Linked DNA regions of Homo sapiens: region 1 is linked to region 2. The links come from fine-mapping of genetic effects on gene expression. A gene starts in region 2. The other region holds a variant in brackets. All regions are shown on one strand. Distances are from middle to middle. Region 1 overlaps ATF1 (activating transcription factor 1). Region 2 holds the start of ATF1 (activating transcription factor 1).

Region 1 (8,336 bases), 48 kb after region 2:
AAAAAGTTTTAGGAATTTCTTTTTGTGGCCGGGCATGGTGGCACATGCCTGTAATCCCAGCACTTTGGGAAGAGGAGATGAGTGGATCACTTGAAGCCAGGAGATCAAGACCAGCCTGGCCAACATGGTGAAACCCCGTGTCTACTGAAAATACAAAAATTAGCTGGGTGTGGTGGCTCACACTTCTGGTCTCAGCTACTTGGGAGGCTGGGGCACAAGACTCTCTTAAGCCAGGGAAGCAGAGGTTGCAGTGAGCCATGATGGCGCCACTGTACTCCAGCCTGGGTGACAAAGCAAGATCTTGTCTCAAAAAAAAAAAAAAAAAAAAAATTATTTTTGTGAAGTCATTCACATTACCAATGTTTAATAGAGTTCTGGTTTTTTTTACAGAAAAATTTTGAAAGACTTATCTTCTGAAGATACACGGGGCAGAAAAGGAGACGGAGAAAATTCTGGAGTTTCTGCTGCTGTCACTTCTATGTCTGTTCCAACTCCCATCTATCAGACTAGCAGCGGACAGTACAGTATGTATAGGAATCAGTTTCCACATTATAAACACACAAAACCTGACTTTTCTGTAGAAAGAAATGGTGTTAGGAAAACTGTAATACTTTGATAGTGATGATTATTAAAGGATGTTTTCAGCCAGGAATAATGCGAAGTACTGTTTCAGCATTATTTACTCCTTATAACAACTTTGTGACATAGGCAATTATCAATGTATGAGGGAACTGAGACCTACAACATTAGATACTGTTTTGTTTTGTTTTGTTTTGTTTTGTTTTGAGACAGAGTCTCGCTCTTGTTGCCCAGGCCGGAGTGCAGTGGCACAATCTTGGCTCACTGCAACCTCTGCCTTCCCGATTCAAGTGATTCTCCTGCCTCAGCCTCCGGAGTAGCTGGGATTACAGGCGTGTGCCACCACGCCCGGCTAATTTTTGTATTTTTAGTAGAGAGGAGGTTTCACCATATTGGCCAGGCTGGTCTCGAACTTTGACCTCAGGTGATCCGTCCACCTTGGCCTCCCAAAGTGCTGGGATTATAGACATGAGCCACTGCGCCTGGCCTTATTTTGTTCATTCTTATATCTATGTAGTTCCGTACATAATTGCTGTATATTATATTAGTATAATTCCTTTCAGAACATTCCTGGCTTTTTTTTTTTTTTTTGAGGTGGAGTTTCGCTCTGTTGCCCAGATTAGAGTGCAGTGCCATGATCTCGGCTCACTGCAACTTCCACCTCCCGGGTTCAAGTGATTCTCCTGCCTCAGCCTCCCAAGTAGCTGGGATTACAGGCGTGTACCACTTCGCTTGGCTAATTTTTGCATTTTTAGTAGAGACGGGGTTTCACCATGTTGGCCAGGCTGGTCTCAAACTCCTCCTGACCTGAAGTGATTCACCCACCTTGGCCTCCCAAAGTGCTGGGATTACAGGCGTGAGCCACCACGCCTGGCCCCTGCCTATTCGTTAAAAATATTTATTGTTTGATTTATATACAGTAAAATTCACTCTTTGGGGAGTTTAAGTCTATGAGTTTTGACAAATGTGTAGAATAGTATAACACCGCCAATCAAGATTGAGTTCTGTCACCCTAACGAATTTACTTGTGCTGCCCATTTGTTATCTCCCCCTCCACTCCTAACATTAATCTGTTTCATTCAGTCTTGCCACAAAATATATGTCCCATCTGACCACCTCTTGCCGTCTCCAACCACCACCGCCTTGGTTTAGGCTCTCATCTTAATTACTGAAGTAGGCATCCAGTTGGTCATCTTGCTTCCATTCTTGCTCTAATAATCAGTTTTCCATACTGTGGCCAAAGTGATTTATTTAAGATGTCAACTAGATCACATCGCTCCTGCCCAAAATCCTCTAGTGACATTTTATCACACTTAGAATAAAATCCGGATCTTACAAGGCATTACATTTAGGATCTGCCTACCACTCTGACCTCATCTCCTGCCACTTGGTGGCATTCTGACCACCCCAGACTTCCTTACTGTACCTCAGACACACGAGCTTGTTTCTGCCTCAGGATCTCTGGAGTTGTCATTGCTCATGCCTGGCATGTTCTTCCCCCAGATCCTTATGTGGCTACTCTGCTTAAGTGTCACCTCCACAAAGAGACCACTCTCTTCAAATATGTGGCTCCTCCCTTTAGTTTCCCTTAACCTCCTATATTTTTCTTTATAGCATTTACATATAACTAAGTCAGTACATATTAGTTTAATTATAGATTGTATGTATGTAATTATAGATTAGCTTATTCATGATCTGTTTTCCCCACTAGAATATAAGATCCTTAAGGGAAAGAACCTTTTGTTTCATTCACAACTACATCCTTGACATATAGGACCTGGCATATAGTAGGCTTTCAGTTGTTTGTTATGAATTAATTAAATAATATATATATAGAATACCTCTTGAGAAACTGGGGGCCAGGCACTGTAGTTCATGTCCGTAATCTCAGTACGTTGAGAGGCTGAGGCTGGAGGATTGCTTGAAGCCACATTCAGGACCAGCCTTGGCAACATAGCAAGACTGTGTCTTCACAGAAAAATGAAGAAAAAAAAAAAAAAAAAAAGCCGGGCATCATGGCATGTGACTAGTCCCATCTACTCGGGAGGCTGAAATGGGATCTCTTGAGTCTGGGAGTTCGAAGTTACCGTGAACCGTGATCGTACCACCGCACTCCAGCCTGGGCAATAGAGCAAGACCAGTCTCAGAAAAAGAAGAAAGAAAGAAAGAAACTGGGAGCAGTGGTTGCAAGGAAAGAAGCTTGGGAGCAGAGATCAGAGGTAGTGGGGAGGTTCACATGTTATCACTGAAATAAGTGTAGTACAAACTAGTATTTAGGGCAACATAGGCCAATAGAACTTCGTATGATAATGGGAATGTTTATATCTGCATTGTCCCAGAATAGTAGCCACTAAACCATGTGTGACTGTTGAGTGCTTGAAATATGGCTGGTGGGACTGAGAAACTGAAATTTTAATTTTGTTTAATTTTAGTTAATTTAAATAGCCACATGGAGCTAATACCCTATCAGACAGCTCAGTTTTAGAATAAATACAGCACATTAACAGGTAAATACACATGTTAAGAACAGGAAGATATGTTGCAAAAATGAAAATATGTATTCACACATATTTAATATCAAAACATTTGCATCTACAGGTATGTATTTTGATATATTAGGTTGGTGTAAAAGAAATTGCAGTTTTCACCACTGAACATAATGGCAAAAGTATATAAGTCTGTATAAGCACAGGAAAATAATGGGAAGGATGTGCACCAAAAACAATAATTATCTCAGGATGGCGGTAAAAGGGGGAAAATGAAATAGAGATAGATAATGGGACCTTTAATTTTATTTATGTTGATACTTATATAAATAAATGTGTATGTGTATATATGTATATAATAATGTGTTGCAGGGAAGAAGATTGAAACTAATTGCTAATATAACTTCACAGCAAATCTCAGCCTGGCGTGTTGGATCACGCCTGTAATCCCTGCACTTTGGGAGGCCAAAGTGGGAGGATCACTTGATTTCAAGACCAGACTGGGCAATATAGGGAGACCCTATCTCTATAAAAAATTTAAAAATTAGCTGAGCATGTCCGTGTGCATCTATAGTTCCAGCTACTTGGGAGGCTGAGGTAGGAGGATTGCTTGAGCCCAGGAGGTAGAGTGCAGTGGTGAACCAGGACCACACCACTGCACTCCAGCCTGGGTGACAAGTGAGACCCTGTCTCAAAAAAAATAGCCAACATATCCCTGTATCTAACATTTAAAAAAATATTTTGAAACTCATAAATTAAAGTTGGGGCAGTTGGGGAGGGATAATTATGAATGCGTGAAAAAAAATATTTTTCCATCACACACATATACATATACATGTATTTTGGCTTCCTGGTAGCCAAAGCATAAAAGGAAAAAAAAATGTTTCATAACTGTAATCTGAAAAGAGGGTACAGAGATGAGGCATTCGATTCTGAAGAGTATATGGGAATTGAATAATGCTAAAATGTTTTCTATTTGATCATGCCTTATGGGCATTTAAGGGCTGAGGAGAAAGCATGAACACAGGTATAATTCAGTGAAAAAATGTTTGTGGGGAGCTAAGTAGTATTTTCTACACAGTGGCTTTCTGCTATCTTTATTAGTGATTTTCACTAGGAAGTAAATGAATAGATTACATTTCTTAACTATCACTTAAGTAAATATCTTAATAACATGTAATACATTTAACAGTGGTACCACTAGAAAATGAAGCTAAGAAACCATATAAAGATGACTTATTTTCTCATTATATAACCTTTTATTCTATTGAATTTTTTCCATAAGCATGTTATCTATTCAGAAATATTTTAAAGTAATAATATTTTTAATGCTTTTGACTCAAAATTACAAACTATGTTTATGTTTCCTTTTTATTTTTTCTTAAAAATTAACTATCATGGGGCCAAGTGCAGTGGCTCATGCCTGTAATCCCAGCACTTTGGGAGGCTGAGGCGGGTGAATCACCTGGGGTCAGGAATTTGAGACCAGCCTGGCCAACATGGAGAAGCTCCGTCTCTACTAAAAATATAAAAATCAGCTGGGCATGGTGGCGCACACCTGTAATCCCAGCTCCTTGGGAGGCTGAGGCACAAGAATGGCTTGAACCCAGGAGGCAGAGGTTGCAGCCAGCCGAGATCGTGCCACTGCACTCCAGCCTGGGCGGTAGAGCGAGACTCCATCTCAAAAAAGAAAAAAAAAAAAGAAATGCTGTTTTATTCCTTTTACATGTAGTTCACCTAAAGTAAAGTAGTCTGCAGTTACCAAGTAGAAGTGCATTCATACCTGTTTT[A/G]GTAAATAGTGTTTGTGGGCTTTTTGCCACTCCTTTGAATTAGTGTATTATATAACCTTACAATAGCTATTTTCTCTTTTTGATTAAAGTTGCCATTGCCCCAAATGGAGCCTTACAGTTGGCAAGTCCAGGCACAGATGGAGTACAGGGACTTCAGACATTAACCATGACAAATTCAGGCAGTACTCAGCAAGGTACAACTATTCTTCAGTATGCACAGACCTCTGATGGACAGCAGATACTTGTGCCCAGCAATCAGGTGGTCGTACAAAGTAAGTATGCTTTCTGTCTACAGAAAGTCTCCTAACACTGTCAGAGACACTTACTAACTAACTCATTCACTCTTGTTTACCATCTAGCTGCATCAGGAGATATGCAAACATATCAGATCCGAACTACACCTTCAGCTACTTCTCTGCCACAAACTGTGGTGATGACATCTCCTGTGACTCTCACCTCTCAGACAACTAAGACAGATGACCCCCAATTGAAAAGAGAAATAAGGTTAATGAAAAACAGGTAGGTAGTAAAATCGTAGTACCAGAATGGGTAATGTTTTTACAAATCTCACAACATAACCAGATGTTAACTGGAACTGTATACAGTCATGGGCTGCATGACAATGTTTAAGTAAACAATGGACCACATAAATGAATGACGGTGGTCCCATAAAATTATAATGGAGCTAAAAAGTCCTGTGCTAATGTCATAGTGCAACACATTACTCACGTTTGTGGCAATGCTGGTATAAACAAACCTATTGTGCTGCCAATCATATAAAAGTGTAGCACATGCAATTATGTATAGAACATAATACTTGATACTATAATAAGTTAATATGTTACTGGTTTATGAATTTACTATACTTTTAATCATTATTTTAAAGTGTATACCTTCTACTTTTTTTTTTTTTTTTTTAAAGTTAACTGTAGGCCAGGCATGGTGGCTCACGCCTGTAATCCCAGCTGAGGCGGGCAGATCACGAGGTCAGGAGATCGAGACCATCCTGGCTAACGTGGTGAAACTCCATCTCTACTGAAAATACAAAAAAATTAGCTGGGCGTGGTGGCGGGCGCCTGTAGTCCCAGCTACCCGGGAGGCTGAGGCAGGAGAATGGCATGAATCTGGGAGCCGAAGCTTGCAGTAAGCTGAGATTGCGCCACTGCACTCCAGCCTGGGCAACAGAGTGAGACTCTGTCTCAAAAAAAAAAATTTTTTTAACTGTAAAACAGCCTCAAGGCAGCCCCTACAGGAGGTATTCCAGAAGAAGGCATTGTTATCATAGGAGATAACAGCTCCCTGTGTGTTATTGCCCCTAAAGACCTTCCAGTGGGATAAGGTATGGAGGTGGAAGACAATGATATTGATGATCCTGACCCTAGGCTAGTTAGCCTAGGCTAATGTTGGTGTTGGTGTCTTAATTTTTAACAAAAAAGTTCAAAAAGTAGAAAAGTTATATTTGGTTTTTGTGATTTTTTTTTTTAAGACAAGGTCTCACTGTGTCACCCACACTGGAGTGCAGTGGCACAATCTTGGCTTACTGCAACCTCTGCCTCCAGGGCTCAAGTGATCCTCCCAGCTCGGCCTCCCAAGTAGCTGAGACTACAGATGTATACCACCACACCCAGCTAATTTTTTTTTTTTTTCTTGTAGAGGTGGGGTTTTGCCATGTTGCTTAGGCTGGTCTCAGACCTGGGCTCAAGTGATCCATCCACCTGCCTCAGCCTCCCAAAGTGCTGGGATTACAGGCATGAACCACTGCACCCAGCCCCCAAAAATTTAAAATTAGCTAGTACAACCACTATGAAAACCAGTATGGAGACTTCTCAAAAAACGAAAAATAGAAATCTACCCAAAGGAAAAGAAATCAATATATCAGAGGGATACCTGTACTCATAAGTTTACTTGCAGCACTATTCACGCACAATAGCTAATAGAATCAACTATGTGTCCATCAGTGGATAAATGGATAAGAAAGAATTAAATCATGTCATTTGCAGCAACATGGATGGAATTGAAGGTCAGTATCTTAAGTGAAATAAGCCAGGCACAAAAAGAAAAAATATCACATTCTCACTTATATGTGGGAGCTAAAATATTTGAACACATGGAAGTAGAGAGTGGAAAAATAGGGCTGGGCGTGGTGGCTTATGCCTGTAATCCCAGCACTTTGGGAGGCCGAGGCGGGAGGATCACTTGAGCCTAGGAGTTCAATGCAAGCCTGGGCAACATACCCATTGCTACAAAAGATAAAAAATTAGCCAGGCATGGTGGCGTGTGCCTAAAATCCCAGCTACTCGGGAGGCTGAGGTGGGAGGATTGCTTGAGCCCAGGGGGTTGAGGCAGCATGATCGCACCACTGCACTTCAGCCTGGGCAACAGAGCAAGACCCTATCTCAAGAAAAAAGAGAGAATGGAAAAATAGGTAACAGAGACTGGGAACGGTGAGGGGCAAGGAGGAGGATGAAGAGAGTTAAAGGGTACAAACCCATACACAGTAAGATAAAAGGAATAAATTCAGTGTTTCATAGCAGAGTAGGATGACCACCCTTAACAAAAACCTATTAATACTCAGGTGATGGACACCCTGAATCCCCTGACTTGATCGCTACACATTATATACATGTAACAGATTTTCTCATGTGCTCCATAAATATGCACAGAAACATTTTAATGGAAAAAACCATACAGGCCAGGCGTGGTGGCTCACACGTGTAATCCCAGCATTTTCGGAGGCCAAGGCAGGAGGATCACTTGAGCCCAGGAGTTTGAGACCAGCCTGGGCAATATAGGGAGACCCCATCTCTAAAAAAAATTTAAAACATTAGCTAGATGTGGTAGAGGCAGGAGAATCACTTGAACCTGGAGGCAGAGGTTGCAGTGAGCCATGATCACGCCATTGTACTTCAGCCTGGGCAACAGAGCAAGACTCTTGTCTCAAAAATAAAACAAACAAAAAAAAACACACAAGTAGTTAATAATCATATAAAAGACTACTCAGCCTTATTAGTAATCAAAGAAATACACATTAATGCTACACATTTAGATACCCTTTATACCCACCCAATTGGCAAAAATTTTAAAGTCTAACCAAGAGTTGGCAAGGATTTGGAACAATGGTCAGGAATTCATAGATACTACTATAGGAGTGTAAATTGATGCAGCCATTTTGGAAATTAGGCCTTATCTTGTACAGTTGACGTGGGTATACTCTGTGACCCAGCTGTTTTAGTCTGTGTGACTGAGAGGAACTTGGAGGAAGTATGTATAAGAATTTTCATAGCAGCAAAAAATCAGGAAACAACCTCAAGATTCATTGATAACAGAATAGGTACATATTGAGCCTAAACATAAAAATGGGGGGAAAAAAGAATAGGTACATAAATTGTGACTGTATTTATAGAATGGAATGTTTATTTGTAATGACTGAATGAATAATCATTTCAACATGAATAAATCTTAGAAAAATTGAATGAAAAAA
Region 2 (8,336 bases):
ATGAAACTTACTATTCAGATAAACTGCATGCATCAGAACCAAGACCTCTTTTTTTTTTTCATCTAGTTATCACAGTTCAGAAGACTGGTAGGCACAGTTTATGATACTTCAATGAGAAAGAGACAAGAAAAGCAGAAGTATTTTTGAGGGGCAGTGTTGAACAAGCATAACTTTTTTTCTTCTTTTCCTCTGTCAACTGAGTCGTGGTTTTTTGTTTTTGTTTTTTTTTTTTGAGATGGAGTCTCACTGTTGCCCAGCCTGGAGTGCAGTGGCACGATCTCGGCTCACCACAAATTCCGCCTCCTGGGTTCAAGCGATTCTCCTGTCTCAGCCTCCCGAGTAGCTGGGACTGTAGGCTCACGCCATCACGTCTGGCTAACTTTTGTATTTTCAGTAGAGACGGAGTTTCGTCATATTTGCCAGGCTGGTCTCGAACTCCTGACCTCAGGTGATCCACCCACCGCGCCCTCCAAAGTGCTGGGATTACATGCGTAAGCCACCGTGCCCGGCCTGAGTTGTTTTTTAAACAATTTTAAAAAAAATTATTTTAGAGGCTAGGTGCCGTGGCTCATGCTCGTAATCCCAGCACTTTGTGAGGCTGAGCAGGCGGATCATTTGAGGTCAGCAGTTCGAGACCAAGACTGGCTAACATGGTGAAACCCCGTCCCTACTTAAAAAACTACAAAAATTAGCCAGCTGTGATGGCACACACCTGTAATCTCTCAGCTACTTGGAGGCTGAGGCAGGAGAATCACTGAAATCCGGGAGGTGGAGGTTGCAACGAGCCAAGATTGCACCAGTGCACTCCAGCCTGGGCGACAGAGGCAGACTCCATCTCAAAAAAAAAAAAAAAATTAGAGACAGTGTCTCATCTGTCATGTAGGCTTGAGTGCAGTGGCATGATCACAGCTCACTGTATCCTCAAACTCCCGAGCTCAAATGATCCTCCTGCCTCAGCCTCCCCAGTAGATGGGATTACAGGCGCATGCCACCAGGACTGGTCGAGCGTAACATTTGATTTAGACCTAAGGCACTAAGGAAGAGGAGCTAAAGAAGTAGTCAAGGCACATTTTGAAGGTTTCATTTTTCAATAAAATTTCCAGGTTTTTATTTTTTTTCTTTGGAGACAGTCTCCCTCTGTGGCTCAGGCTGGAGTGCAGTGGCGTGATCTTGGCTCACTGCAACATCTGCCTCCCAGGTTCAAGCGATTCTCATGCTTCAGCCTCCTGAGAGGCTGGGATTACAGGTGTGTGCCACCACACCTGGCTAATTTTTGTATTTTTAGTAGAGACGGGGTTTCACCATGTTGGCCAGGCTGGTCTCGAACTCCTGACCTCAGGTGATCTGCCCTCCCCCACCTCCCAAAGTGCTGGAATTACAGTCATGAACCACGACGCCTAGCCCCTCCCCCGCTTTTTACTGATCAACTTTTGTTAAGCATTCTGTGGTCCACGGAAGAAAAAACCAAACACCAAAGAACAATAAACTTGTACAACCAGCCTTCCAGCCATCAATATTCTGGATTCCAGAATGATTGAGGCTGGACTTTGTTAATCATCGAAGGCTGGTATCTGAGAAACTCTTCCTCTCCCTTACCTTTATAGGCCACTTTTCTTTCAGTAATGCTGAAACACTGACTTAATAACAGTTGTCCCCTGGTCTAGCATTTAATAGGTAATCCACAATTTTTGCTGAATGTCAATAGCTAAACGTTAGTGACCTCTTAAGACTGTCTGGCAGAGTAAATCTTCGGCTTTATATCACATTCTCCGACCCAAAGGGCCAAAAATAGGCAAAGCTCTCTCCACTAAATCGGTTTCCTAAATTGGGGATCTCAAACTAGTAAAATTTCAGAAAACTTTCGGAACTTTTGTCAAGAGCATACTAAAAAAGTTTATCTTTTGTCGTTTACTATCATTAAAGCCATAAAACAGCATTTTACAAGGAAATTTTAAAAATTAAGAATAAGGCATAACTCCCTTCCAGAGAGGTAGACCCAAAAATATTCTGAAGTTTTTGTAATGCATTAAAATGACGGCATAACATTTTATTAACACTCTGTTACGTTTCTTTTTTCTTTTTTTTTGAGACAGTTTTGCTCTTGTTGCCCAGGCTGGAGTGCAACGGTGCGATCTCGGCTCACCGCAACCTCCGCCTCCCGGGTTCAAGCGATTCTCCTGCCTCAGCCTCCCAAGTAGCTTGGATTACAGGCATTCGCCACCACACCCGGCTACTTTTGTATTTTTTAGTAGAGACGGGGTTTCTCCATGTTGGTCAGGCTGGTTTCGAACTCCCGATCTCAGGTGATCCGCCCTCCTGGGCCTCCCAAAGTGCTGGGATTACAGGCATGAGCCACCGCGCCCGGCCACATCGTTATGTCTCATTGTAAATCCGTTTCTGTAGAAAATCCTTCCACATGGGTTAAAGGACACAACTCATTGTTACTTTATGGGATTAAGAAAAATCTGAGTAAGGCCGGGCACGGTGGCTCACGCCTGTAATCCCAGAACTTTGAGAGGCCGAGGCGGAGGATCACTTGAGCCCAGGAGTTCAAGACCAGCCTGAGCAACATAGAGTCCTCATCTCTTCAAGCCGAGCGTGGTAGCGCGCGCCTGTGGTCCCAGCTGCCCCATAGGCTGAGGTTGGAGAATCGCTTGAATCCCGGGGTTGGAGGCTGCAGTGAGTCGAGATCGAACCACTGCACTACAGCCTGGGCCACAGACCCCCGTCTCAATCTCGGAAAAAAAAAAGAGACTCCATCTAAAAAAAAAAAAAAAAAAAAAAAGCTGAGGAAGTCAAAGCCTTCACTCTTCATTTCTCCTTCCAAGAGGACAGGGCCGGCGTCGGTCAAGGTCAATTGGCAGGTGAGTTGACAGCGCCGCCACTAATCGATGAAAACGCCCCCCGCGAGCACCCAGCTGCTCATGGCCTCCGGAAGCGGACGTAGGGCGGGTGGGGTACAGCTCCTAAGGAGAAACGGAACCGCAGGCACCGTCCCTCTCCCGCTGCAGCCTGAGGAACGCGTTCCGAGGAACCCCTAGCCACAAGTCAGGACCGCGTACAAGATGGCGGCGCGTCACGTGGGCAGCGCGGTGACGCAGGACGGCGGCCCGCGCGGAGGCAGCGCCATAGCCTACCCCAAACGCACACTAGTGCTCAGTTTTGCCCCCCTCCCCTCCCCCGCCCCCGCCCCCGCCCCCAGGCTTGTGTAGATCATGCCGCCAGTAGCGGCCCTGACTGCCGAGGAAACGGTAGCTTAGGACAGTTGGCTGTTAAGTGACACTGATTCTCCCCGCCCCGCCTGACCCCCGAGAAGGAGGCTTGTCCCCCGCTGCGTGAGGGGGTGGGGAAGTGGGTAGTGAATTCGGATCTACCTGGGAGGGGGGAGTGGAAGTTCCCGCCCCGGAGAGCGGCGAGGCGGCAGCCACAGGTAAGTGGGGGGCGGGGAGGGACGTGCCCCGTGGCCCGGGCGGGGAAGGACGCGGGAACGTGGCGCCGGCGGGGACGCAGCGCGGGTCGCGCGCCTGGTGGGGGTCGCGCGCGGTGGTGGCGGTGGGGGAGGGGCGCAGCGGCAGGGGGAGGGGCCGCCCGCGCTTCCGGCCTCCGCGCCTCGGTGCAGAGCTGCGCTGCGCCCTTCCAGTCGTGCGTCTCCTCCTTTCCCTCGCCCCCAAATAAAAGTAAAGCCCGAAACCGCCCGCCGCGGGGTGGCTTTCGCCTCAGAAGCCGCCCTTTGCAGTCGCAGGCGCTAGCTCTCCGTGGGAGGTCTCGAGGTTGGGCCCGGAGCCGGGCGGAGGGCGGCGCGGATATGGCCTCGGCGCGGTGTCCGCCGAGCGGAGCCCGGGTCTGGTTAACCCCGCGACAGGGTCCTCGAAGCGCGTCGGCGCTGGCGACCCTGAGGGAAGAGGCGCGCCCCTTACCCTCCTGGAGCTTGCAGTCTAGCGGGCAACCGACGCACGGGCATTGCGCACGCCCCAGACAGTCCTGGAGAGATGCGCCTGGCAGCGGAGACAGAGTGGGGACAGTAGGCGGCTTTACCCCTGGCTAGGAATGACACAAGGGCGTCTGTACCCTTTGGGATGGGCGACCCAGCCGAGGGTGACTTTCTCTTTGATCTTGTATGTCAAAAAACGAAGCCTGGCATTTCTCACTTTGATCGACGCCGTGCAGCTGGCGGCTGAATCGCTTTGAAATGATTGCAATGTGAAATAATGTCTGGTTGTGGCGCTAGTGTTTTGAAGAGATTGGGCAACTGGTAGTCTTTGAGAACCTTTAGGGTTCAGAAGCTCGGCGTGGATCTGGCAGGCATCTTTGTCAAACTGGCCTCACCTGTGATGAGTTCGTAGGCATTTATGTCTCAGAATGCATTTTAACCTGAGGTTTTTGTTAACAGAAATGCGTTCTTCTAAAATGCTCTTTTTTCTTGGAGTTTATCATATGCAGTTATCTCCGTGTCTTAATTAGAATCAATACTGTTGCCCTAAAGTCGAATGTATTAGCTCTTTAATACTTGCCGTTATCTTTTAGGGTTAGGTTTGGTCTGTGAGCTATCTGTCCATTCCTACCCGATCACCAGCAGGTGGCAGTCCCTTCTGACTTTAAATATAGGGTGTGCTATCTTTGCCAGTTTTTGTTTTGTTTTGTTTGTTTGTTTGTTTGTTTTTAAATAGAGATGGTGTCAGAGGCGTGTGAACTAGAACAACTCCATCTTAAACAGGAGCTGGGTAAAATGAGGCTGAAACCTACTGGGCTGCATTCCCAGACAGTTAAGGCATTCTAAGTCACAGGATGAGACAAGTCAGCACAAAATACAGGTCATGAAGACCTTGCTGATAAAACAGGTTGCAGTAAAGAAGCCGGCCAAAACTGAAATGGCCACAAGAGTGACCCCTGGTCATCCTCACTGCTACACTCCCATCAGCGCCATTTACAAATCCCATGGCAATGTCAGGAAGTTACCCTATATGGTCTAAAAAGGGGAGGCGTGATTAATCCACCCCTTGTTTAGCCTATCATTGAGAAATAACAGTAAAAAGGGGTAACCAGCAGCCCTTGGGGCTGCTCTGTCTATGGAGTAGCCGTTCTTTTTATTCCTTTACTTTCTTCATAATGTTACTTTTACATCGCACTGTGGACTTGCCCTGAATTATTTCTTGCGCGAGATCCAAGAACCCTCAGTTGGGGCCTGGATCAGGACGCCTGTCCTGTAACATATTTCTGGCGACCACAAAGGGACTATAGTGCAGAAACCCTGACCCAACGGCTACCTTTGGGTAAGTGTTGGGGTCCTGTAACGTATTTGTGGTGGCCACAGAAGCGACTATACTGCGGAAACCCAGTATTTATGTTTAGGAGTCTCTCCTAAGACAGTGGGTTCGAGGCCCCTCTTAATAAAAGGCAAGGACGCTTAAGCTTGACTGACCTTGGGTTGGAGGCCCTTCTAAGATATAGGGAGTTAGAGTCCCTCTCAGGTAACTCCCTCTCAGCTAAGAACAGGTTTGGCACTATGGGATATTAACTGCTGTTCTCTTTGGATTAATCTGCCTTGCGCTCTTTGCTGATGGCTGTGGGTGACAGAGTTAGGCATGAACAGGATCGTGGGACATGGGGAGCTTTTTCCTCTCTAAAAGGGGAGTCTTTTTTTTTTTTAATTTAAGTTTTAGGGTACATGTGCACATTTTGCAGGTTAGTTACATATGTATACATGTGCCATGCTGGTGCACTTCACCCACTAACTCGTCATCTAGCATTAGGTATATCTCCCAATGCTATCCCTCCCCCCTCCCCCCATAAAAGGGGAATCTTGAGAGCTGATGGGACTGCTGGAAAAGGTCCCTTTGCTGCGTACAAGCGGCTGCCTGAGGTTTTCATTGTCGGCTGCAATGAGTGGGTCTTTTCTCTGGCCTCCCTAAGCTCTTCAGCTTCCCCACCCTGCCACAGGCAATACTTTTCTTATCTACTTTGCGTTTCTTATTTTTTCTATTACTCAGGGCAACCATCTTACCTAGAGGCCACATGTTGAAACTCCAAGTCGGAGGTTGAATTAAAGATGACAGGCCCATCTGGGGGCAAATTTAAGCCTTGCTAGTTTGATATTGGGTGCTAAGCGGAGTGGCTAATGTCTTTGTTTTATCACACGTATTTTGCTCTGGCCAGAATGGAAAAAACATAATTTTCCTTTATGATACGGCTTGGCCCCCAGGGCAATGATGCTGCAAGCTTGAACACTAGGACCACTAAGGGAAAGGGAACCCAGAAGCCTGGGATGCTGGCAAAAGGGTAAGAATGTATTACCAGTCAGATTTCTGGCTTCTCTCTCACTGTACAAATGGTTAAGTGAATGGTTAAAAAAAAAAAAATCAGCCTGGCACGGTGGCTCAGGCCTGTAATCCCAGCACTTTGGGAGGCTGAGGCTGGTGGATCCCCTGAGGTCAGGAGTTTGAGACCAGCCGTGGCCAACATGGTGAAACCCTATCTCTACTAAAAATACAAAAAATTAGCTGGGTGTGGTGGCGTGCGCCTGTAGTCCCAGCTACTTGGGAGGCTGAGGCAGGATAATCACTTGAACCCGGGAGGCGGAGGTTGCAGTGAGCCGAGATCGTGCCACTGCACTCCAGCCTGGCAACAGAGCGAGACTCCATGTCCATCTCAAAAAAAGAAAAAAAAGAACACCTGTAAGCTCGCTTTTCAAGATGACCCAGCAAGCTGGTCAGTAAGATACTTGGCTGCAGGTCCCTGTAACAAATAAAAGACTGGATGAAGTCTCCACCTTGTTTTACGTCCTTGGGAGCTTGACCTTTTAACCATGTGGTGGTACTTTCTTTTGGTCCCCACCTTCAGAGAACAGGAATTTCAGGATTCATGTCATAGTTAGCTCTAAAAATAATATTAAATAGTTAAAAGCCCTTATAAGCTCAAAATTAACTACTCTAGACTCCTTCTGGGAAGGTCAACAGAGACTGCCCTGTGCTGTAGCTCAGTAGCTAAGCTTTTGCACTTTCTTTTTTTTTTTTTTTGAGATGGAGTCTTGCTCTGTCGCCCAGGCTGGAGTGCAGTGGTGCGATCTCAGCTCACTGCAACCTCCGCCTCCCGAGTTCAAGTGATTTGCCTGCGTCATCTTCCCAAGTAGCTGGGATTACAGGTGTGTGCCACTACGCCCAGCTAATTTTTGTATTTTTAGTAGAGATGGGGTTTCATCATATTGGGCAGGCTGGTCTCGAACTCCTGACCTCAGGTGATCCACCTGCCTCAGCCTCCTAAACTGATGGGATTACAGGCATGAGCCACCGCACCCAGCCAGCTTTTGCACTTCCGTGGCAACAGTCCAGGTTCAATTACCCACCTAGGAAGTAAGTCGTTTCTGGTTTAATATCTGCATGACTTTGTCTATTCTCTTCTCCTCTGTGAACTGTCTTATATTTTCCTTTTTCTAAGCACCTGGGAGGTTACCTTTGATAAAATTCAAAAGCCAGAAATACCAGCCGTTTGGCATAAAAACTTCTAAAAGGACTTTATTAAAGAGTGCTATGGTTAAAATAAGTTTAATTAAAAGTGGATATTCAAGCTCTAACAGCCTGGACTCCTTGGGAAAAACAAGAGGCACCAGAGACCCCTTTCGTGGCCCTGTTCTTCCAAGGGCTCCACCCTGAAGCCGGTAATCCAATTAAGAAACTTAAAAACTGGCAAATGAAAAATCTTACAACCACTGTTATCATCATCATCTGTCTTTCTGTGTAGCTATATAGGTGTCGTGTGTAATATTTATATAAAAGAGCTCTGATTAATCAGCTTAAACAAAAATAAACATTTAAATCAAATATTTTGAAAGCAAAATAACTAATGCCTTTTAGTTCATGTAACTTTAGTAATCTTTAGGAAATAAACACATCTTTAAAATTGATAAAAATGTTAATCTTAATTATGCAGGTCAGATATTAAGTTTGTTAAATGATTTGAGGTCATAAACTGTTTCTTTGACTTTTAAAAATTGTTCAATTTACCCTACCTTAAAGCCATTAGATTCTAGATAAGGCCTGGGGACATGTGGAGTTAGCCACGCCCCTAAGCTGTGCTGGAGAGTCAGCTCTTATCTGCACTTCTGCCTGGTGTGTCCTAGGCTAGGCTCCACACCTAGTACATAATTAAAATTGCTTACTAACCAGGGTTTTCACCAAAAGTAAAAGTCGCTAAAAGTTAAAATTGGAACATGTAACTGAGACTATTGAAGAGACAGTTTTACATGTAAGGTGTGTAGTAAGGAAAATAGAATGTACTTTTGGTAAAAGATTATAAGAAGGCATGGAAATGTGGGGTTTTTTGGCTAAAGAGTTAAATAATTA

Evidence for each region. PIP is the estimated chance that this variant, and not a neighbour inherited with it, causes the effect.
Region 1: its variant is fine-mapped to the expression of ATF1 in whole blood (INTERVAL, PIP above 0.99).

The regions. Positions count from the first base shown.
Region 1 is chr12:50,809,066-50,817,401 of GRCh38, forward strand. It overlaps ATF1 (activating transcription factor 1), which reads left to right. Exons shown (of 7, transcript NM_005171.5): 4 at 391-524; 5 at 4,945-5,127; 6 at 5,215-5,374. Among named protein-coding and RNA genes, the nearest start is that of TMPRSS12, 30 kb to the right of the region's middle. The variant A/G (reference allele first, on the strand shown) is at 4,856.
Region 2 is chr12:50,760,878-50,769,213 of GRCh38, forward strand. ATF1 (activating transcription factor 1) reads left to right here and starts at 3,224. Exons shown (of 7, transcript NM_005171.5): 1 at 3,224-3,430. RefSeq lists enhancers at 819-1,687, 3,988-4,087, 8,030-8,336 and silencers at 3,178-3,257, 3,478-3,567.